7 separate regions of the Homo sapiens genome follow, and all the other regions are reported to be linked to region 7. Evidence: microRNA targets listed by miRTarBase, many of them from high-throughput screens and not tested one by one. Region 7 holds a microRNA gene; each other region holds the end of a gene's coding sequence. Distances are between the middles of the regions.

Region 1 (3,093 bases), not on the chromosome of region 7:
CAGAAGGGTTTGGCTGCATCCCCAAATCTGACTAAGCTTTTTTTTTTTTTTTTTTTTTGGGATGGAGTTTCGCTCGTCACCCAGGCTGGAGTGCAATGGTGCGATCTCAGCTCACTGCAACCTCTGCCTCCCAGGTTCAAGCAATTCTCCTGCCTCAGCCTCCCAAGTAGCTGGGATTACAGGTGTGAGCCACCGTGCCCAGCTCTGACTAAGCTTTTATTTAGCCAGCCACTTGTGGCTTAAACCTCCTCATCCCCTTGAGTGGGCTCCATCAAAAAGTAGTCTCAGGCTGGGCACGGGGCTCACTCCTGTAATCCCAGCACTTTGGGAGGCCGAGGCGGGTGGGTCACTTGAGGTCAGGAGTCCGAGACCAGCCTGGCCAACATGGCAAAACCCTGTTTCTACTAAAACAAATACAAAAAAATTAGCCAGGCATGGTAGTGCGTGCCTGTAATCCCACCACTCTGGAGGCTGAGACACGAGAATTGCTTGAACCTGGGAGGCAGAGGCTGCAGTGAGCCAAAATCACGCCACTGCACTCTAGCCTTGGTGATGGAGTGAGACTCTGCCTCAAAAAAAAAAAAAAGGTGGGGGCACCTGGGCACGGTGGCTCACGCCTGTAATCCCAGGACTTTGGGAGGCCAAGGCAAGTGAATCACCTGAGCTCAGGAGTTCGACACCAGACTGGCCAACATGGTGAAACCCCATCTCTACTAAAAATACAAAAATTAGCTAGATGTGGTGACGGGCGCCTGTAATCCCCACTACTAGGGAGGCTGAGGCAGGAGAATCACTTGAACTGGGAATGCAGAGATTCTAGTAAGCTGAGATCGCGCCACTGCACTCCAGCCTGGGCAACAAGAGCGAAACTCCATCTCAAAAAAAAAAAAAAAGTCATAGGGAAGCGTATTAGTAATACAGTGAATGAAGCTGGACTATTCATTGCACTTAAAGTGAAAAGTGCTACAGATTATGAAATAATTACTAAAACATACAGCCACACTGTTTCCATAACTGCAGAAGATGGGACTTTGTAGCATATAAAAACAATAAAATAGAGGGAACACTTCATTAGGCAAACAAAAGAATTAGGACCTATAAAAATTTGCACTTTTTTTCCTGGATTTTTTTTTTTTTTTGTCAACCTACTCACCAAAAAATTTGCACTTTGACTCATATTGGCCTATTTTAACATTTCAAAATCATTTAAAGAAAAATATGACTTTTTCTGTCATAATTCCCAGTCTTAGTCTCTATCTTTGATCAAAAAGAGGATAGGGCAATACATTAAATTGACAAGGCATATAACAGCCACTGAATCTTTCTGTTCATGAGAAGAAATCCCAGATACACCATAAATGAGATGCAAACCAGCAGTAAGAATGATGGCAAGGTTTCTGTATTTCCATCAGAAATTGTGGAAAAGGGCCTAAAACCAGGAAAGACAAGGCCATTAAAAAAATGTATTTGAGGCCGGGTGCGGTGGCTGACACCTGTAATCCCAGCACTTTGGGAGGCCAAGGCGGGCGGATCACGAAGTCAAGAAATCGAGACTATCCTTGCCAACATGGCGAAACCCTGTCTCTACTAGAAATACAAAAAATTAGCTGGGCGTGGTGGTGCATGCCTGTAGTCCCAGCTACTCAGGAGGCTGAGGCAGGAGAATCGCTTGAACCAGGGAGGTGGAGGTTGCAGTGACCCGAGATCATGCCACTGCACTCCAGCTGGTGACAAAGCAAGACTCCATCTTAATATATATATATAATTTGAGACGGTGTCTCGCTCTGTCACCCAGGCTGGAGTGCAGTGATCATGATCATAGCTCATTGCAGCCTTAAATTCCTGGACTCAAGTGATCCTCCTGCCTCAACCTCCCAAGTATCTAGGGCTACAGGTGTGCACCACCATGCCCTGCTAATTCTTTTATTTTTTAGAGACAAGGTCTTGCTAGGATGGTCTCAAACTCCTGGCTTCAAGCAGTCGCCTCTCCTCGGCCTCCCAAAGTGTTGGGATTACAGGCATAAGCCACTACGCCTGGCCAGAAAAAGCCAAAAAAAAAAAAAAAATTAGGGCTGGGTGAGGTGGCTGATGCCTGTAAACCCAGCACTCTGGGAGGTCAAGGCGGATGGATTGCTTGATCCAGGAGTTGGAGACCAACCTGGGCAATGTGGCAAAACCTCATCTCTACAAAAAATATTTTAAAAAAATAAATAAATAAGTAAAATAGAAGTTTGACATGAAAGTATATAATATAAAAAAATCCAACTCCGGAAAACCAGAATACAACTCACCAAATGTTTTGCTTCTCCACCAACGTAACAATTTATAAAGCAAGAGATGAGAAAAAGAGATTATTGGGAAATGTACTGAATAATGAGGAGTCTGGGGAATAGAACAAAAGTTGTAAGTCGTAACCTGACCCATCTTACTTCACTGGTAATCAAGTACAGTCGAAAGGATGAAATAAAGAAGTGAGTAGTTTAAAAACTCTGTTGGACCAGCACCTTGAATCAAATGGATGTTTTAGGGTTCTGTTTCCCACTGAACCAAGAATTGTATCCCTCCATCTCTCCTTGAGGAGAGGCCCTATGTTAGACCTTGGCTACTCATCATTAAGATAAAATCTTAATAGATAAAACTGGAATTCCTTGAATCCATGAAAAGACAGTGTTCATTAAGGGTTTGTGCAGTGGATGCTCCTTATGTCCCATGGTAGAATAAGATCTCCTTAGCTCCGCCAAGTTAAAGGCTCTTGCAAGGGCACTTAGAGATGTTGCCTCTTCATGAAGATTTCATGTAGGTAATCCCAAAATTTCGTCTGCTCTGTTTCATTGTTGTGGATCATGGCAGTGAGAGCTTCCCCCTGGTCCAGACCTTGCCAATAATCTTGCAGCCACATCTCTTTCCAACTGAAATATCAAAATGGGGGTTGGATTATGGAACTGCAGCATAGTTATGAGTCCTGCCTTTTTCCGAGTGGGGCCAAAGAAATCTTAAGCAGATACAGTGGTCTCTAACTTGGACAAGACTGCTGTGAAAGGAAGACAAAGTGAAGTAAATCCAATATAAGCCCAAGCGACAGGCAGTAAGTCA
Region 2 (3,000 bases), not on the chromosome of region 7:
GGTGGAGGTTGCAGTGAGCCGAGATCCAGTAAGCCCACTCTCTCTAGCCTAGCCGACAGAGCCAGATTCTGTCTCAGAAAAAAAAAAAAAAAATTAGTACAGAAATCAATGAAATTGCAAACAGGAAATCAATAGAGAAAAGGACCTAAACCAAAAGTTGATTCTTTGAAGAGATAATTAAAATAAATAAACCCCTAGCCAGGCTCTCTAAGAAAAAAAGAGAAATGAAACAAATTATTAATATCAAAAACAAAAGAGGGACATCACTATTGATCACCAGTAATTCCCATCATTCCCTCTTTGCAGATCAACATGTACCTGTTGTCACGCGTCCTGTTTGCCCTGAGCCGCCTGGCTGTAGAGAAGGGCTACATCCCTGAACCCAGGTGGGACCCGTTCCCGCTGCTCACTGCGGTGGTGTGGGGGCTGGTGCTGTGGCTCTTTGAGTATCACCGATCCACCCTGCAGCCCTCGCTGCAGTCCTCCATGACCTACCTCTATGAGGACAGCAATGTATGGCACGACATCTCAGACTTCCTCGTCTATAACAAGAGCCGTCCCTCCAATTAATGCAGCCCTGAGGTGTCTGGCTGTGGCTCAAGATTTGGCCCCATGCAGACCCTCCCAAAGGATACTGCCTTCTCAAGATCATAGGCCTCAGACTCCAACTGGTGTTATCCCAGGGTTCCGTTTGCTGAAGTAAAAACACTGATTTTAAAATCCCAGTGGGTACCTTTGTATGGTGGCACAAGTGGCCGAATCAGGCTGAGGAATCTACGGCTTGGTTCCAGCTGTGCAGCTGACTTCTGTGAGACTGGGGCCAGCCACACTACTCTCTAGGCCTCAGGGGTCAAGGAGCTCAGAGGAGGGCCCTGAGGTCTCTTTCCGGTGGGTATGTTCATTCTTCAACTGTTCTTATGTCACAGAGGGCTCCTTGCTGGTGGGCAGTGGGTTGTAAATACTTTTTAAAAAACACTAAGTTCCTTATCTCAGATGCTGTTCTACTGGAGAAGTTCTAGATTCCCACTGTCCAATAGAAACACGTGAGCCATATATGTAATTAAAATGTTTCTAGTAGCTGCATTACAAAAAAGAAGCCTGGGCACTGTGGCTCACTCCTGTAATCTCAGAACTTTGGGAGGCTGAGGCAGGTGGATCACTTGAGCTCAGGAGCTTGAGACCAGCCTGGGCAACATGGTGAAACCCAGTTTCTACAAAAAATACAAAAAATTAGCCGGGTTCCATCACCTGTGGTTCCAGCTGAGGTGGGAGGATCACTTGAGCCTATGAGGTCGAGGCTACAGTGAGCAAAGATCACGCCACTGCACTCCAGCCTGGGCGACAGTGAGACCCTGTCTCACCAAAGAAAAAAAAAAGGTGAGATTAATCTTCACTATATATTTTAACACAAATTTCTAAAAGTTATTTCAACATATAATTAACATCATTAGATATTTTGTACTCTTTTTTGTATTAAGTATTCAAAATTGGGTGTATATTTTGCCACCCACATTTTCAGGACCCAGTAGCCACATGTGGCTAGTGGCTGCTGTGACGGGCAACACAGATATGGAACACTTGTATCCTCACAGATTATTCTAGTGGACAGTGCAGATCTAGAGCTAGAGGACATGGGTTTGAGTCCCCACTCCCCCACTGTGTAACCTTGGGGAAGGTTCTGGACCTCTCAGAGCCTCAATTTATCATAAAATGAGGATAATCATAATGCCGTGGTCCTCACTGGACTTGTGCAACTACCACTGATGTGCTACTAATTACTTTCATTTAGTGCATTCATACTTCCACTTGGGTGTTTTCCACATATTATTATTATTTTTTTTTTTTAAGTAGCGACAGGGTCTCGCTCTGTCACTAGGGCTAGTCTCGACCTCCTAGCCTCAAGCAATCTTCCTGCCTCAGTCTCCCAAAGTGCCATGATTACAGGCATGAGCCACTGCCCCTAGCCTGCACATATTATTTTTAAACCATACAGTGGCCTTGCAAATGTGTGTTTTCGTCCCCATTTTACAGATGTAGAAACTGAGGGTCAGGCCAGGTGCAGTGGCTCACGCCTGTAATCCCAGCACTTTGGGAGGCTGAGGCAGGCAGATAACCTGAGATCAGGAGTTCTTGACCAGCCTGGCCAACATGGTAAAACCCCATCTCTACTAAAAATACAAAAATTAGCCAGGCATGGTGGCACGTCCCTGTAATCCCAGCTACTGGGGAGGCTGAGGCAGGAGAATCGCTTGAACCTGGGAGGCAGAGGCTGCAGTGAGCTGAGATCGCACGACTGCACTCCAGCCTGGGCCACAGAGCGAGACTGTGTCTAAAAAAAAAATAAAAAAAGAAAAGAAAAGAAACTGAGAATCAGAGAGGAGAGTAACTTGCCCAAGGTAATACAGCTAGTATAACAGCCGAATCAAGATTTGAACTCAGATTCGTCTGATTTCAAAGCCCATGTTTTTTCCAGTGCCTTGTTTCAAATTTAGAAACCTAAGCCATGCTATGCAAATGTTAGCTCATTATAGGATATGGGCCAGAAAGGGGTACACATTCAAATGCCCATAGGGGCCTACAATGACATAGTGCTATGCGATGAGGAGTGATGGGGACATAGGGAACTGGAGACTTGTGTACCAGTCTGATTTTTTCTTTTTTTTTTTTTTTTGAGACAGAGTCTTGCTCTCTCGCCCAGGCTGGAGTGCAGTGGCGCGATCTTGGCTCACTGCAAGCTCTGCCTCCCAGGTTTACTTACACCATTCTCCTGCCTCAGCCTCCGGAGTAGCTGGGCCTACAGGTGCCCGCCACCACACCCGGCTAATTTTTTGTATTTTTAGTAGAGATGGGGTTTCACCGTGTTAGCCAGGATGGTCTCAATCTCCTGACCTCATGATCCACCCACCTTGGCCTCCCAAAATGCTGGGATTACAGGTGTGAGCCACCATGCCTGGCCAAGTCTGCTTTTTTCGAAACCACGATCCTAGACCAGGCACGGTG
Region 3 (3,115 bases), not on the chromosome of region 7:
CAGTGACCATCCACCCTTCATCTAGCTTGGCGCTGCTGAGCTCTACTGCCATGCAGGATGGGAGTACACTGGGCAACATGACCACCATGGTTAGCCCTGTGGAATTGGTGGCCATGGAGTCCGGCCTAACCTCGGCAATTCAGGCTGTTGAAAGCACCTCAGAGGATGGGCAGACCATCATTGAGATTGATCCAGCCCCGGACCCAGAAGCTGAAGATACTGAGGGCAAAGCAGTCATCTTGGAGACAGAGCTGAGGACTGAGGAGAAAGTTGTGGCTGAGATGGAAGAACACCAGCATCAAGTTCACAATGTGGAGATTGTGGTCTTAGAGGATTAACTGGGGATCTCAGGGCCAGGAGTTATGTTTTGATTTGGAATTTTAATTATTTGTTTATTTTTATCATTGTCCCACTCATTTCCACATAGGACCCTTTTTTAAAAAAAAAAAAACAAAATCTTATTGTTGTAACTGAAAATGTTGGGTTCTTCCCACTCCCTCATTGAAAAATGGACAAAACAAGCTGCCCTTCCAGAAGTTGAGAGTAGGTCATTCAATGTCCTAATCATCTTACACCAAGAAAGTAATTTCTTTTAGGGGAAGTGTCAAGATAACAAGTAACCCTGTCCAGAAAGCCATTTCCAGGCTCGTCTGTGTGTGTAGGCATGTGGTTTTATTCTTGTAAAGATGCATTGACCAAACTCTGGAACACAGATCTGACACTGGAAGGCAACCCACTCGCATGTGGATGCTGAAGGGCACTTTATTTTGTATCCTGAAAAGGGCCTACAGAGGCCAGTACAAAACTCTCAAACAAAAGGAAGTTGACTCTGCTTTGAGGGGAAGGTGGCATGCCAGCACTAGCTTAAAAAGGGAAGTGCTAGCCGGGCGTGGTGGCTCACGCCTGCAATCCCAGCACTTTGGGAGGCCGAGGCGGGTGGATCACGAGGTCAGGAGTTTGAGACCAGCCTGGCCAACATGGTGAAACCCCGTATCTACTAAAAATACGAAAAAAAAATTAGCCGGGTGTGGTGGCGGGAGCCTGTAATCCCAGCTATTCAGGAGGCCAAGGCAGGAGAATCGCTTGAACCTGGGAAGGCAGAGGTTGCAGTGAGCCAAGATCGCACCACTGCACTCCAGCCTGGGCAACAAGAGCGAGACTCCATCTCAAAAAAAAAAAAAAAAAAAAGTGCTTTGGCAAGTATGGGGCAGGGAAATCATCTTACTTCCAGAGGTGCAACTGACGCCTCTGGAGATCTCCAAAAGTTAGTACCGTGAGTGCCATTTTGAGAAGAAGGTGGTAATAAGTGGAAGGTACATCTCCACAGAGCAAGTGGCAGCAGTGGCCTGTGGTTTTGCAGAAATGGAAAGCCAAGGCCGGGTGCGGTGGCTCATGCCTGTAATCCCAGCACTTTGGGAGGCCGAGGTGGGTGAATCACCTGAGGTCAGGAGTTTGAGGCCAGCCTGGCCAACATGGTGAAACCCCGTCTCTACTGAAAATACAAAAAAAAAAAATTAGCTGGGCATGGTGGCACGCGCCTGTAATCCCAGCTACTTGGGAGGCTGAGGCAGGAGAATTGCTTGAACCTGGGAGGCGGAGGTTGCAGTGAGCTGAGATCATGCCATTGCACTCTAGCCTGGGCGAGGAGTGAAACTCCGTCTCAAAAAAAAAGAAAGAAATGGAAAGCCAAGGATGCTGCAGCTGTGCTTTGGGGTTCAAGGTAATAGCTTACCTTGTTCCACACTTTGTCAAAGCACTCACCCTCCTAAGCTAGGACCAGTCCATTCATTTGAAACTGTGCAATGTGATGTAAATGGCTCTGGTTCTTAGACTGTGGCTGTCACAGGGATGGGGCTCCAAGGCCATCATTTTCATTGCATGGCTCCAAGAGCAGGGAGTTCCTCAATGAAACCAGCTGCCTTTTTTGGTGGGGCCATTTTTTTGGCTTTGGAACCCAAAGCAGCCACTCATTTGGTGCTTCCTCTTGTTCTGCCCTCCATCCCTCAACTCTTAATGGCATCTGTCTCCTAGAACCCACGCTCTTCAGCTTTTTGGCTGATTTGGAGAACAGTGACAGGTGCCTGCCTGCCTTCGTCCCCTTTTAGATTCATTTATACCACAGATGTTTCTGTGAGATACTGAGATCATAAAAAGCTTTAGGCTTGGCAGAGAGGACTCAACACCCCCAGGCTTTCCTGAGGCACCAACTAGATGTCTCTTGAGTGAGCTGGACTCCCTGGGAAAGAAGCATTGTCTGCAACATTATATTATAGGAAATGTACCAGGAATGTCAATAATAATGCTTTGGGGGGGGGGGTTATTTTGTTTTGTTTTGTTTTTAATGTTGTTTGTATATTTAGAGCTGGGCCATTTTCCGTGCTGCGATTTCTTCTCTTTGACCCTCTTCAGTGTTTGGGGCAAGAGTGGACCCTGGTTTTTATTTCTTTGATTGCATTGTTTACTGCACTAGGAAAAATATAGAGATACAGGGAAACTACAGACAAATTTAAGGAAAAATAGGTCAAAAAAGAAAGCACACACCTTAAGAGTGGGAGGAATATTTTTATTAAAAACAAAACTTGGACCTGTAGTTTTTTTTTTTCTTTTTTATTTTTAAGAAGGCACCTTTCAGAAGCCATGTTTCTTCCAACAGATGTTGGAAACCCCATCGAGCAAGTAAAAGTTGCATTCTCCATCCCTCAGATGGCTGTATGTAGTCAAAGAAACCCTGTAACATGGTAAGGTTGCTGTTTTTTTTTTTTTTTTCTTTTTGAGATGGAGTCTTGCTCTGTAGCCCAGGCTGGAGTGCAATGGTGTGATCTCAGCTCACTGCAACCTCCGCCTCCTTGGTTCAAGTGATTCTCCTGCCTCAGCCTCCTGAGTAGCTGGGATTACAGGCTCCCACCACCACGCCCGGGTAATTTTTGTATTTTTAGTAGAGACGGGGTTTTGCCATGTTGGCCAGGCTGGTCTTGAACTCCTGACCTCAAGCGATCCGCCCGCCTTGGCCTCCCAAAGTGTTGGGATTACAGGCATGAGCCACCGCACCCAGCCTGAAGGTGACTCTTAAGAATGAGATTTATGAACTCCATACAGTTGTAGATTTCAGTTTTTA
Region 4 (3,115 bases), not on the chromosome of region 7:
TTTTTATTTTTATTTTTTTTTGAGACGGAGTTTCGCTCTTGTTGCCCAGGCTGGAGTGCAGTGGTGCAATCTCGGCTCACCACAAGCTCCGCCTCCTGGGTTCAAGCGATTCTTCTGCCTCAGCCTCCTGAGTAGCTGGGATTACAGGCATGCGCCACCACACCCGACTAGTTTTGTATTTTTAGTAGAGACAGGGTTTCTCCATGTTAGTCAGGCTGGTCTCAAACTCCCGACCTCAGGTGATCCACCTGCCTCGGCCTCCCAAGGTGCTGGGATTACAGCCATGAGCCACCATGCCCGGCCGACCTCACCTTTTTATGGCACATCCTGTGAACCAGCATTATCCCATTCAATCCGCACAGTAACTTGGTGAGGTGGCTGCTGTTCCAATCCCCATTTTACAGATGAGGAAACTAAGGTCCAGAGGTAGAGGCCTTCTCCAGGGCCTCTGCTTCCTGAGTCAATCTGTGATGGAGATGCCCCCAGAGAAGCCTCCAGGGGCTGGAATTGTACCCTAAGACTGGACACAGAAGGAGGCTCATGAGATTTTTCTTTCTGCTCTTTCAGAAATGGCTGAGCGACACAACACCAAGCAAGTCCTGAAGCTGGCGCGGGACCTCGTGTACAAGGTGCAGACTCTGATTGAGAACAAGTGAGGGGCACCTCACCCCGGCAGCCTCAGCCAAGCTGCCCCTGCCCCGCTCCTCTGCTTACTTTTCCTCCTGGCTGGATGGGCACCCCGGGAGCGGGGTCCTGGTGTCTGTTCACAAGCGTGGAGTTCAGTGCGCAAAGAAACTACCCTGACTTTTACTTCTGGGCAGATGGGGTGGAGGGAGTACCCCTTCAATTCAGCCTTACATTTTCCTGTTTGACCAAAGATTGCCCAAGTCTGGCGTTCCTCCCTTGCAGGAGGTGGAGGTTGTTGGTGGAGGAGGAGCCATCTTTGTTTGCTGGTGCCCGGAATGGTCTCCTCTTCTTCTTTCCCTATCCCTCCAAACTGTCTTGTAAGATGAGACCTGGGGAGGAAACTTCTTTTTGGAAATTGGTGTAGAAGAGGTGTGTGGGGCTACCTCTATGCTCCTCTGCAAGGGGCCTTTGGCGATGTTCTGGACATGGCTGAAGATTGACTTAGAGATTGACCCTCCACCTCGACATTACTGACATTTGGGGCCAGGTGATTCTTTTTGAGGGGACTGTCCCCTGCATTGTAGGATGCTGAGCAGCATCCCGGGCCTCACCAGATGCCAGTAGTGCCATCCCCCAACCATACCCCTGGTTGTGACAGCCCCCAAAAATGTCTCTAGACATTGCGAAATGTTCCCTGCAGGGCAAAATTGCCCCCATTTGAGAACCACTGGCTTGGAGAAGGGACTACAAATGTACTTCCTCCCCCATTCTTTTGACGCTAAGCCACCCTGGTCCTGACGCCTCCCCTCACTTAGAAAAGGCATACAGGAGGCCGGGCATGGTGGCTCACACCTGTAATCCCAGCACTTTGGGAGGCTAAGGTGGGCGGATCACAAGGTCAGGAGTTTTGAGACCAGCCTGGCCAACATGGTGAAACCCCATCTCTACTAAAAATACAAAAATTAGCTGGGTGTGGTGGCGGGTGCCTGTAATCCCAGCTACTTGGGAGGCTGAGGCAGGAGAATCACTTGAACCTGGGAGGTGGAGGTTGCAGTGAGTTGAGATCACGCCACTGCACTCCAGCCCGGGCGACAGTTCAAGACTCCATCTCAAAAAAAAAAAGAAAAGGCACACAAGAGTCCCTCACACATCTCTCTTGGAGTCTGGGATTCCATCTGTTGTATTTTCTCCTTTTTTCTCCTCTGTCTGATGCCAGAAGATACTTGTTTTCTTCTTTTCAAGAAAAGTATCTCCCCACATAGGCGGTGGACCCAAAAAGTGTAGGCATGAGACGGTCAGAGCTCTTTGGGGTCCTGCTCAGAGTCCCCCAGGCAGGGCAGAGTCTGTATCCTGCTGCCATCTTGCAAGGGAAAACCGCCTCTCCTTCCAAGTATTGGGTCTTGGAAAGGTGTGTGTTTGGTGAAAGCCACTTAATGGTGGTGGGGTGCAGCTTTTCTCTAAGTGCAGTTACTCACTCAGGACAAAGGAGGAAAAGGAAGGCAGAGGTCAGCCAGGGTAGAGGGTGATGTCTGTTTTCCTTGGGAAACATCTGCTGATGAACTGGGTCCAGGGCCGTGCTAGGTCTGGGAACAATCCTCTCCAGGTCTTCACACAGAGTATCACCAATCCACAAACAGACCCGAAGTGAACTAGTTTACTCTGCCTACCTGTCCTTTCAATAGAGCAGTCTTTCCCGCTCTTCTGTTCTGAGAATGCACCCGGAATGGGGGAAACCCAGCAAGCAGCAGAGAGAAAGGCTCTTCCCGGGAGACCTGCCGCCTCTAGGGTGGTCAGAGAATAGCAGCTGGGATTTTGGAGAGGGAGAGGATAGGTAAAGCAGCGTATTGAAGCATTTGCGGAGGGGTGTATTAGTCCTCCCACCCTGAGCACACCAGGACGGGGATGCATCCTTGCCTTGTGTGCTTGTAAAGGCTTCTTTCCCTTGGTATAGCAACTTCAACTGCACCTGAACCTCCAACCTCTGCCCAGCCTCTGGTGCAGGGTGGATAGAGGTCTAGCCAGCCCTTACTTCCTGAAGAGAGCTCTGTGGGAAACTCGAGGCTACAGTAGCTTCCCGGCTCCCAGCTCCTACCCTACCCCCACCAAAGCAGAAACGGGAGACGGCAACGTTCTGGCTGCCATTAGACTTACGTCTCCCTCCCCTACGTCCCCTAGCTTCCCAAGACAGGAAGAAATGTGCAAAAGGCCCCTCCGGAGAAAACTATTTTGCCGTTCAGCTGTTCTTTACAGAGGATGTTATTTTAGTGAGACCCAGGTCCTAGACCTTCTGATTCCTATTTATTTTTTTAACAGACTAGTCTCAAAGTACAGCACAAAATCTCTTCTCTGCCTTCTCTTGTGATGTTCCAGAGAGCATCTGTGGTTGTGATTTGGAATAAGTCATATTTATTTGGTTTACTGTGCCTATTCAGATCTCTGTATGTTGTGTGTGTTTCTGTGTCCTGGAATTGGATGCGTGGGACTCGTT
Region 5 (3,000 bases), 17 Mb from region 7:
ATTTACATAGTATTTACATTGTGATAGGTATAAGTGATCTAAAGATAATTTAAAGTATACAGGAAGATGTGAGTAGGTAATATGCAAATACATACTATGCCATTTTATACAAGGGACTTGAGCATCCTCAGATTTTACCATCAGTGGAGGATCCTGGAACCAATTCCCCATGGATACCAAGGGATGACCATATACTGTTCATCTAGTCCCTGTCTGCTTTCAGTTCATTATTCCAGCAATAAGGCTTTGTAGATGGTGGTGTGGACTTCCTATTGCATTACGTCAGGAAGTGTGTTGTCTGATAGACCCATTTTTATTAAGGTTAAAACAGATCAAAGGGTTCAGAGGTGGCCAGTTTGATAGATCCACCATAAAAATCTCGCTATAAAATATTTCACCTATTAGTTGTAGTACCCATTGAAGATCATGTTTTCTGGACCCATTATTCCATTAAGGTCTAGAAAATGGTGATTTTTCTAATCCTCTAATTCCTTCTAGATTTATTAGACTTCTTCAAAAAAGAAAAACCCATTCAAAAAACAAATTTTTTTTTTGAGACAGGGTCTCACTCTGTCACCCAGGCTGGAGTGCAGTGGCACGATCTCAGCTCACTGCAAACTCTGCCTCTTGGGTTCAAGTGATCCTCCCACCTCAGCCTGGGACTACAGGTGTGTGCCACCATGCCTGGCTAAATTTTGTATTTTTAGTACAGACAGGGTTTCACCATGTTAACCAGGTTGGTCTCAAACTCCTGGCCTCAAGTGATCCACCCACCTTGTCCTCCCAAAGTGCTGGGATTACAGGTGTGACCCCTGTGCCAGGCCAAATTCATTTGAATTTGATGAACTTCTGGTGACCCTGAAATTTGGTTCACATGGGAAAAGGAAACTAAATGACAATTTTTCCTCTGATTTATTGATTTCAAGAATAATGAGTTGGGCTGGGTGTGGTGGCTCATACCTGTAACCCCAGCACCTTTGGAGGCCAAGGAGGGAGGATCACTTGAGCCCAGAAGTTCAAGACCAGCCTGGGCAACATAGTGAGACCCTTTCTCTAAAAAAAAAAAAAAAATTTAGGTGGAAGAATCACTTGAGCCCAGGAGGAACAGGGTACAGTGAACTGTGCTTGTACCACTGCACTCCAGCCTGGGGGACAAAGTGACACCCTGTCTCAAAAAAATTATACATTGGTGCTCTAGCATCTTTCATAGGTTACCAAATTATGCAGCCACAATCAAGTAAACTATCAAATTATTGGTGGGATCACATCAAAAACTCAACTTGAAACAACTCCTACTGGTTGAAGATATGGCATTTTGAGCATCCAAAAGTATACTGACTTATAGAATGATGTTTTGTTTCTTTCCCACAGGAGTTTTATACACACACATAAATATACACAACAATATTAAATTCCTAGGTGGTTAATTTCTTTTAAGCCACATTTTTGATAGTTTCTAATTAATTTTAAACTGTGGTCAGACAACAGGGATTGTAAGCCTTTTGCTTTCTGGAATTATGGGAAAATCATTTCCTATTTCCCTCTAATTCTTCAACAGCTGTATTACTAGTGACCTCACATTCATGAAATTCATTTTTGGCATGAAATTTCTAATGCAGCTCAAGTGCTGAAGAACTTCCTACATTCACTACAATCTAAATTTTACCTAGAATAAATTATGTTTAATAATTTCTGAGAGGTGACAGGAGGCATTTCTACATTTATTATGTCTACAGATCTTCCTTTTACGTGAATTCACTAATACTAATGACAATAATAACAATTACAGATAATATTTACAGAATACATGCTATATGACTGTGATTCCTCCAAGTATTAACTACTTACTCCTTGCAACAATCCTATTCCACAGTGTGGCAGGCTGACTCTAAACAGGCCCCCCAGTGGTCCTGTCTCCAGGACTTATTCACACTCTTGTATCATCCCGTTCTCTTGAGTGTGGACTATCCTAGTAACTTACTTCTACCAGTAGAAGGTGAGGGAATGTTACTTCCATGATTAGATTACACAAGATGGTAACTTCCATCTTGCTAGCAGACTGTCCTCCCTTTTGGCTTGCATGCCTTGATGAAGCAAGCAGCCATGTTGATGAGGCTATTGTGGCCAGGAGCTGCAGTCAGCGTTCAGCCAACAGCCAGCTAGAAACTGAGAATCTCAATGCAACAGGCCTCACGGAAATACATTGGGTAACAACTATGTTAGTCTGGATGTGGATCCTTCCCCAGTTGAGCCTTCAGATGAGACCTCAGCCCTGGCTGAAATCTGTAGCCTTGCAAGAGACCCTGAAGCAGAGGACCCAACTAAGTCATGCCTATACTCCTGATCCAAATTATAAGATATAATTATATGTTATTTTATGCTACTAAGTCTGTGGTAATTTATTACGCAGCAATAAATAACTAATACATATAAGTACTATTATTACCATTTTACAAGTCAGCAAAATGAGGCACAGAAGCTTAGTATCTTGTCCAATAAATCAAACTGGTAATCAAGTGGAGAAAGGGAGATAATGACAGATAAGGCTAAAGATTTTCCTACATTCATTACATTATTCTCTCATAGGAATTTGCTGAAGATAAACCATGTTTAAATGGTGTTGGAAGGCTTTTAAATCAACATATTCTTTCTCTAATATAAAATTTATTATGCTTGGAATTGAGCATGAAACACATTTTCTCAAAAATGAATTTTCTGATGTTCTGTAACATCATATACATTTGAAGGCTTTCTTCTATTAAATTCCATTATGAATCTTCTGATGCTGAGTAAGGTGTGAATGCTGTCTAAAGGCCTTCTTACACTCCTTACACTTGTAGGGCTTCTCACCAGTATGAATTCTCTGGTGTTGAGTAAGAAATGAATAAAGTCTAAAAGCCTTACCACATTCCTTACATTCATAAGGTTTCTCACCAGTGTGAATACTCTGATGTTGGGTAAGTTGTGAGAGCAGTCTAAAAGGTTTTCTACATTCCTTAC
Region 6 (3,115 bases), not on the chromosome of region 7:
TAAGTTTGTGTAGCAGTTTGGAAAAGAGTTTGTGAGAAAATGTGTGGCTATGCAGGGGTACGGATTGAGGAAGAAAACAAAGCTATGTTTACATAATGATTATATCTACATATAATTAGGTATACACAGGGATAAATATTGAAGAGGAATATATATGAAGGGTAGCAAATCCAAATATATTGAGAAGAGCTGGTGAGATTTTTTCTCTGCCTTCTTGTTATCAGAGATAAAGTAACTTTAAAAATGTTCTCTTTTGTTTCCTTAGGGCAAAGCTGTTGGGGTGACTATTGGCTGCATTCTAGGAATGTTTCCTTTAATTTTCTTTGGAGGAGGTGAAGAAGATGAAAAACTGGAAACGAAAAGTTAATCCTCTTAGAATACCTATAAAAAGATGTAAACTAATGTACCTCAGTAATTAAATATGCTGTCACAACATTTAGGAATTAAGACAGTAACAGTATAGATATGGGATCAAATAATTTAGCATGTATTATGGAAAACACTAACTTATTGTGGCTTGATCTTCTTAGGACATCTTTTTTAAAAAGCTGTTTAGTATCATTTTGTGTATATTGTTGAAATGCTTTTTCATCAATAGCAGTCAACATTTTATCCTTTCTTTTTATATTCATAATGTTATTTAAGTGTCATTGATGTACTGTATTGACTTGGGGTTTGCTTATTTGTTACTTAACATGTGTACATGCATGAAAGCATTTTTCGTTGTTCCCTGATAGTTACATTTCAACCTTGGGATTTTTCCAAATTACTTAAGATGTTTAATGTCAGTTAAAGATTTTTTTACCCTCTTTTTGGGAACATCAATTTTGTACTGTTATGCAGTAAACATTTATAATAATATAATTTCAGTCATTTCTTAACTGTCACATCTATTGAAAATGGATATAGATACAGGTTTTAAGTATTTTAAGTATATATTACTTATTTTAATTTTCTGACTTTACTATTTTAAGGGCCAGAGGGTTAATCACAAAGAGCAATTATGTGGTCTCCCTGCTACATGAAACCGTGTATACTAACAAGCGTACAATTTTTAGTTGATTTTTTTTAACCTTTTAGTTTCCCAGTTTTGAATAATTACATGGTGGATTCTGACTTTTGAGGGGAAGCAAATGATTATTTTAGAGTCTTTGAAATGGGGATTGTGGAATTAGATTGAACTAAGGGATTTAACATGATGCTTGGAAATTAAGAGACTAAAGCTTTTTTTAAAAAAAGGTGGAAAATAGGAACTGTCAAGAAGGTTTATGGTATAAATGATGAAGTTGAAGTGATGTTTGAAAGATTAATGAGATACAATTTATATTATTTGGTAAGGTTTTTTTTTTTCCCTCCAAAGATGTCATCTTCTCATCTGAATGGAATAAGTCTGAATACCCCATATTCATACTCCTAATCTCATTATATCTTATTTAGTGAATTTTATTTATGAATAATTTCTGTTGAAGTGAAAACTAGATATTTAATATTTTGCTTTTTTGCTACATAGTCTACTCAAAAATTACATGAGGAGAAATCCTTTTTCCCTTTGTTTTTCTTTTTTCTTCTTTTGTGGTATTTAAAGCATATTTTAGGTTGAAGTTACTTATTTCTAGTCTTGTACTTCTGGCTTAAGTATAACCATGTAAGAATTATAAATTTTAGTTTTCTGAACCCTTAAACTTTTTTAGCATGTGGTCTGTTACACATGCTAAAAAATTAGTCTTACTTGTAACAGCGTAATTAAACACATCATGGAGGAGAGAAACTTAAAATTAAAATAGTATTTTGGCTTTTGAAGTTATTTGTGTTGCTAAATAGATGCAGAGGTTTTACAGCAGTTTATTTTAAGGTTTTATTTATACATAATTACTTTGAACTCTTCAGAGTAGATATTTTTTCACAAGGCAGTTTGTCATAAATTCTCTCATGCGCTTCAGAATGCATAAGTGCCATCCTTTAATCATAGACTTTGAGGAGAGAAAGCATAAAAATATAGCATATAATCTAAAAATAAATATATAACATGCACAAATAATGTGACATTCTTACTGAATCAAATCATGATTCTAGAACTTGAGATCTTAAATAGAATTTCGGTTTGTATCTTCCATATAATAACCACACACAGATAACCACACAAAAAATCCTTTGTAAAATTTCTGATTGATAGGATTAGAGTGCTTAAATTTTTGGGGGGGGAAGGGTGGGGTAAAGTGTAAGTGCTTTCTTTTGTCCCTAACTTGTGTATTGATGGCAGTCCACTCTGTTTTCTAAAAATGTATTTTACTGTGGTGCTTAACTTCTTATTAATTAAATCCCGTATCAGAAACCTTGCCTGTGACTTTAGAAAGGGCTTTTGATTATTGTTTTTTCTTCTTGCTCTTGAAAGTAATCTGGTCCCAGGGAATTACTGGTTTAACTGAACATCTCCAGAATTATTTAAGGTGTCAAAATATATAACCTTCACATTGAAAGATAATTTTAATTTATGGGCATAATAAAAATTTGAATCATTCAGGTAATTTTCAAAAAATGGAGACCATTTGTCTTTAACTGAAGGTATATGTTTAAGATCATAGTCTACCCTAGTATGGTGCTTTGCCACAAAGTGATTTCTGAAGAATGGTTCTTTTTAAGATAATGACTTCATATGATCATTGTTTCATGTTACTTGCCACAAATAACTTTAATTTAGGTTGAAACTGGAACTGTTTGTTTCTCATATTAGCTACTTCTCTATTAGGAGCACAAGAACCATAGTTAAATGCAACATGAGCTACTTTAGTCCTGTTTGTTTAAATTTGTGTTGTCCATGTATTATGATTTATTAACTTGTTGATGCATGTAAATTGGGTGCATTTTGTTGCCATGTATGTTAAATGGTGACCAATGTTTTTACAAAGGAATTGAACAAAAAAAGTATCTTTTAAGAAATTTGGAATGTGGTTTTGATTTTGAAATTTGATTTCTTACTAATCTCAGAGGGCCTTGGTATATTCTGTTACTAAAGCAAACAGGATTAATGAATACGGATTTGTTACAAGGTGGCAGCAATGTCACTGAGATAGTGAATGGAACAATTTACCACCTCCCTGGAATCTGCACCTGAGAT
Region 7 (3,115 bases):
GCTACTAAGGGTGGGGTGAGGGGGGGCTTATATGGGAAGATCTTTTGATCTAGGGAGCTCAGGCCTGCAGGGAGCTGTGATGGTGCCACCACACTTCAGCCTGGGTGGTTTTTATTTTTTGAGACAGTTATCGCTGTCACCCAGGCTGGAGTGCAGTGGCACAACCTCGGCTGGCTGCAAGCTCCACCTCCCGGGTTCATGCCCTTTCTGCCTCAGCCTGTGACTACAGGCACCCACCGCCATGCCCGGCTAATGTTTTTGTATTTTTTAGTAGAGATGTGGTTTCACCGTGTGAGCCAGGATGGTCTTGATCTGACCTCATGATCAGCCTGCGTCGGCCTCGGCAGTGCTGCCACTGTGCCCGGCCTTACTTTTTAAACTTGTTTGAAGTTTAAAGAGCAGAACTCTCAAAGAGCATAACTCTAAGTTCTAGCAGGGGTAGAAGGGAAGCACAAAATACTGACAAGTATTTTTAGGCAATGTACTTGGGTCATAGAAGAAGGTTCAGTAACGCCAGACATGAGGCTCATGCCTGTAATCCCAGCACTTGTGGGTGGCAGAGGAACCCAATAGACCAGAAACACATGATGTTGTTCACATTTTATTAAAAAAAAAAGTTAGGAAAAGTGAGACTGTGGCATTGTCCGTGTAGCAGGGTGGAAGCACTCCAGCCCATGCTCTGGCCAAACCCACTTCAAGCCTTACATGCATGCTGCCTACCAAATTCAGGAACAGGACCCCAAATTCCCTTTAAGGCCAACCAGATTCCCCCGACACCCCATCAAGCTTTTCCTGCCCTGTTCATCTGCAGGTGAACCCCGTATCCTGCCCACCCCAGAATATGCCAATTTTTATTATCTAAAATGGAGCATACAGACTGGTGCCCCGCAGAGAAGCCCGGGAACTCCAGGTCATAGCTGAAGCTGCAGTCAGACCCGCAGGCTCCCTTGAAGCAGGATGGTTCGTGATGCCCTACTCAAACAGGGACACCCCAAAATCGAAGCACTTCCCAGTACAGACAAAAAGGAAAGCGCCCCCATTTTGAGTATCCCAGTATGAGCTCCTCGCGAGGATCTGCCATCACTGTGACTTTCTTGCCTACAAGAGGTTGGCCTCCAATCATCCAAGCACATGTTAAATGTCAGCAATAAACTTGCTTGCTATGGGGGAAGAGGAAAGTTACATATCAATTATAACACCAACAGCAAAAAGCATTCCTTTCTTTGTGCATACAGCCCCTTGGTCACAGCTGCTGTTTTTTTTTTTTTTTTTCTTTGAGAATGAGTCTTGCTCTGTCGCCCAGGCTGGAGTGCGGTGGCGCGATCTCGGCTCACTGCAAACTCCGCCTCCCGGGTTCACGCCATTCTCCTGCCTCAGCCTCCCAAGTAGCTGGGACTACAGGCGCCCGCCACCACGCCCGGCTCATTTTTTGTATTTTTAGTAGAGACGGGGTTTCACCGTGTTAGCCAGGATGGTCTCGATCTCCTGACCTCGTGATCCGCCTGCCTCGGCCTCCCAACGTGCTGGGATTACAGGTGTGAGCCGCCGCGCCCGGCGCAGGCGCACAGCCGCCCTCTGAACCTTCTCTTCCTTTCACCATCTAACCCAGATTCCCTTAGTTGTGTCAGGTGAGAGCCCAGGAGGCCCCCTTCCCTTCCCCAGGTTTTCCGGAGCCATTACAGCCAGACGCTGTAAGGGACCTGTACCCAAGACAGTTTCCGGCTGGGAATCGAAACCACAGGCTCTTTAGTTCCTGCAGAAGACCGAGCTCCACGGCATCCGTTGATATGGGCGTCACCGGTGACGCTCAAATGTCGCAGCACTTTCCACTTGGACATCAGAATAGTGCTCCACATTTGAGGCCCACAGGGTGAGCAGCTCCATCTGCAAGAGCCCCGGCCAAGAAATTTATATCACGAGGAAACGGCCATAGGCAGGGTCTAGGGCCATCCTGCTACCCGCCCCCTCACCCAATCAAAATGGTATCTTCTCCGCAGGTTGAGTCTTCTCAAGCGGTAACACTCAAAAGATGGCGGCACTTTCACCAGAGAGCAGAAAGTGCCCCCACAGTTTGAGTGCCACAGGCTGAGGGGATGCGGCAAGGCGGCGATCGCAAGTGGAAGCACTTACCCATCAGAAGAGGCTTTTAAGCAAGGAGGTGGAGAGTAGCCCTTGATGAGCTGTTGAAGGTCTACAAAGCACGAATTTAACGACCCTTTCTTAAAAAGTAAAAAACAAGGCTTTCCACGTATAGATATTCAAAGCACTCCCCCGCCCATAGCCTCCAGATGCAAGCCATGAGGACTGAGTACAATGCAAGTAGGAAGGAACACGTGTGAGGGACAGTGGGGCCTTCGTCCTTAAGACTGAAAAAAAATCACAGAAATAGAACAAAAGTACAGCCCGGCTGGGCGGAGTGGCTCAAGCCTGTAGTCCCAGCTACTCGGAAGGCTACGGTGGTAGGATTGCTCTTGAGCCCAGGAGTTCGAGACCAGCTTGGATAACATAGAAAACCCCATCTCTCCTAAAAAAAAAAAAAAAAAAGCAGAAAAACGCACATGGGAATGGTGGTGCGCGCCTGTGGTCCCAGCTACTGGAGGCTAAAAGGGTGAGTCCCAGGAGGTCGAGGCTGCAAGGCGCCATCATCCTACCTGTGCACTTCATCCTGGGCGACAGTGAGATCCTGACCCTAAAAAATAAAGTAAAATGAAAGAAAATAAAATAACATAGCAATACTCACAGAGGCCAATGATACGTCCACACCTCAGGTCTGCCAGAAAGAACAAGGTTCACTGCAGCTGCGTTCTTATATAGGGTGAGAGCCCACTCAACTTTGATAGGATTAAAGCCCACCCCTTCCCACCCTCTCATTCCCCCTGGTCTCCGCCCCAAGCCACCCTGCTCCCTTTGATCCTAGCTTGCCTTAGTCAGACACACCTTCATAAACTTTTTCAAACACTGATTCAAATAGAAATTAGGTGATCCCTATTACTAGTAACGCCAACATGTATTCGTTATAAATACATTGGAAAACACAGAGAAATAACCAGAAGAAAATCATTCCACCAGTCATCCACTCAACAAATATTTAAATATAGTATTTTGGCAGAGCGCA

The links. Region 7 holds the annotated microRNA hsa-miR-371a-5p (ACUCAAACUGUGGGGGCACU, at 2,058-2,077, opposite strand). A microRNA usually pairs through its seed, bases 2 to 8, with sites in the 3' UTR of a target mRNA and lowers its output. Matches are read on the target gene's strand: a 7mer-m8 pairs with bases 2 to 8, a 7mer-A1 pairs with bases 2 to 7 and ends in A, and an 8mer does both.
Region 1: the mRNA of POFUT4 is a reported target of hsa-miR-371a-5p. The part of its 3' UTR that is shown has no 7-base or 8-base seed match.
Region 2: the mRNA of PXMP4 is a reported target of hsa-miR-371a-5p. Seed matches in the 3' UTR shown: 7mer-m8 at 1,636-1,642 and 7mer-A1 at 2,669-2,675.
Region 3: miRTarBase lists GMEB1 as a target of hsa-miR-371a-5p. Seed matches in the 3' UTR shown: 8mer at 956-963, 7mer-A1 at 1,285-1,291, 7mer-m8 at 1,451-1,457 and 7mer-A1 at 2,770-2,776.
Region 4: miRTarBase lists SGSM1 as a target of hsa-miR-371a-5p. Seed matches in the 3' UTR shown: 7mer-A1 at 1,344-1,350 and 7mer-A1 at 1,534-1,540.
Region 5: miRTarBase lists ZFP14 as a target of hsa-miR-371a-5p. Seed matches in the 3' UTR shown: 7mer-A1 at 2,699-2,705, 7mer-A1 at 1,169-1,175 and 8mer at 742-749.
Region 6: the mRNA of TMEM65 is a reported target of hsa-miR-371a-5p. The part of its 3' UTR that is shown has no 7-base or 8-base seed match.

What each region holds. Positions count from the first base shown.
Region 1 is chr10:73,775,357-73,778,449 of GRCh38, reverse strand. POFUT4 (protein O-fucosyltransferase 4) reads right to left here. Exons shown (of 3, transcript NM_173540.3): 3 at 2,231-2,909. The coding sequence ends at 2,765. Among named protein-coding and RNA genes, the nearest start is that of POFUT4, 4.6 kb to the right of the region's middle.
Region 2 is chr20:33,705,276-33,708,275 of GRCh38, reverse strand. It overlaps PXMP4 (peroxisomal membrane protein 4), which reads left to right. Exons shown (of 4, transcript NM_007238.5): 4 at 307-3,000. The coding sequence ends at 570. Among named protein-coding and RNA genes, the nearest start is that of PXMP4, 14 kb to the left of the region's middle.
Region 3 is chr1:28,714,436-28,717,550 of GRCh38, forward strand. It overlaps GMEB1 (glucocorticoid modulatory element binding protein 1), which reads left to right. Exons shown (of 10, transcript NM_001319674.2): 10 at 1-3,115. The coding sequence ends at 338. Among named protein-coding and RNA genes, the nearest start is that of YTHDF2, 21 kb to the right of the region's middle.
Region 4 is chr22:24,923,619-24,926,733 of GRCh38, forward strand. It overlaps SGSM1 (small G protein signaling modulator 1), which reads left to right. Exons shown (of 25, transcript NM_001098497.3): 25 at 568-3,115. The coding sequence ends at 656. Among named protein-coding and RNA genes, the nearest start is that of LHFPL7, 22 kb to the right of the region's middle.
Region 5 is chr19:36,337,466-36,340,465 of GRCh38, forward strand. ZFP14 (ZFP14 zinc finger protein) reads right to left here. Exons shown (of 5, transcript NM_020917.3): 5 at 1-3,000. The coding sequence ends at 2,759. Among named protein-coding and RNA genes, the nearest start is that of LINC00665, 7.2 kb to the left of the region's middle.
Region 6 is chr8:124,311,212-124,314,326 of GRCh38, reverse strand. TMEM65 (transmembrane protein 65) reads left to right here. Exons shown (of 7, transcript NM_194291.3): 7 at 266-3,115. The coding sequence ends at 367. Among named protein-coding and RNA genes, the nearest start is that of TMEM65, 60 kb to the left of the region's middle.
Region 7 is chr19:53,786,642-53,789,756 of GRCh38, reverse strand. MIR371A (microRNA 371a) reads right to left here and starts at 2,082; the gene lies at 2,016-2,082. MIR371B (microRNA 371b) reads left to right here and starts at 2,015; the gene lies at 2,015-2,080. MIR372 (microRNA 372) reads right to left here and starts at 1,867; the gene lies at 1,801-1,867. It overlaps MIR373 (microRNA 373), which reads right to left and starts at 1,052; the gene lies at 984-1,052. It also overlaps LOC124904767.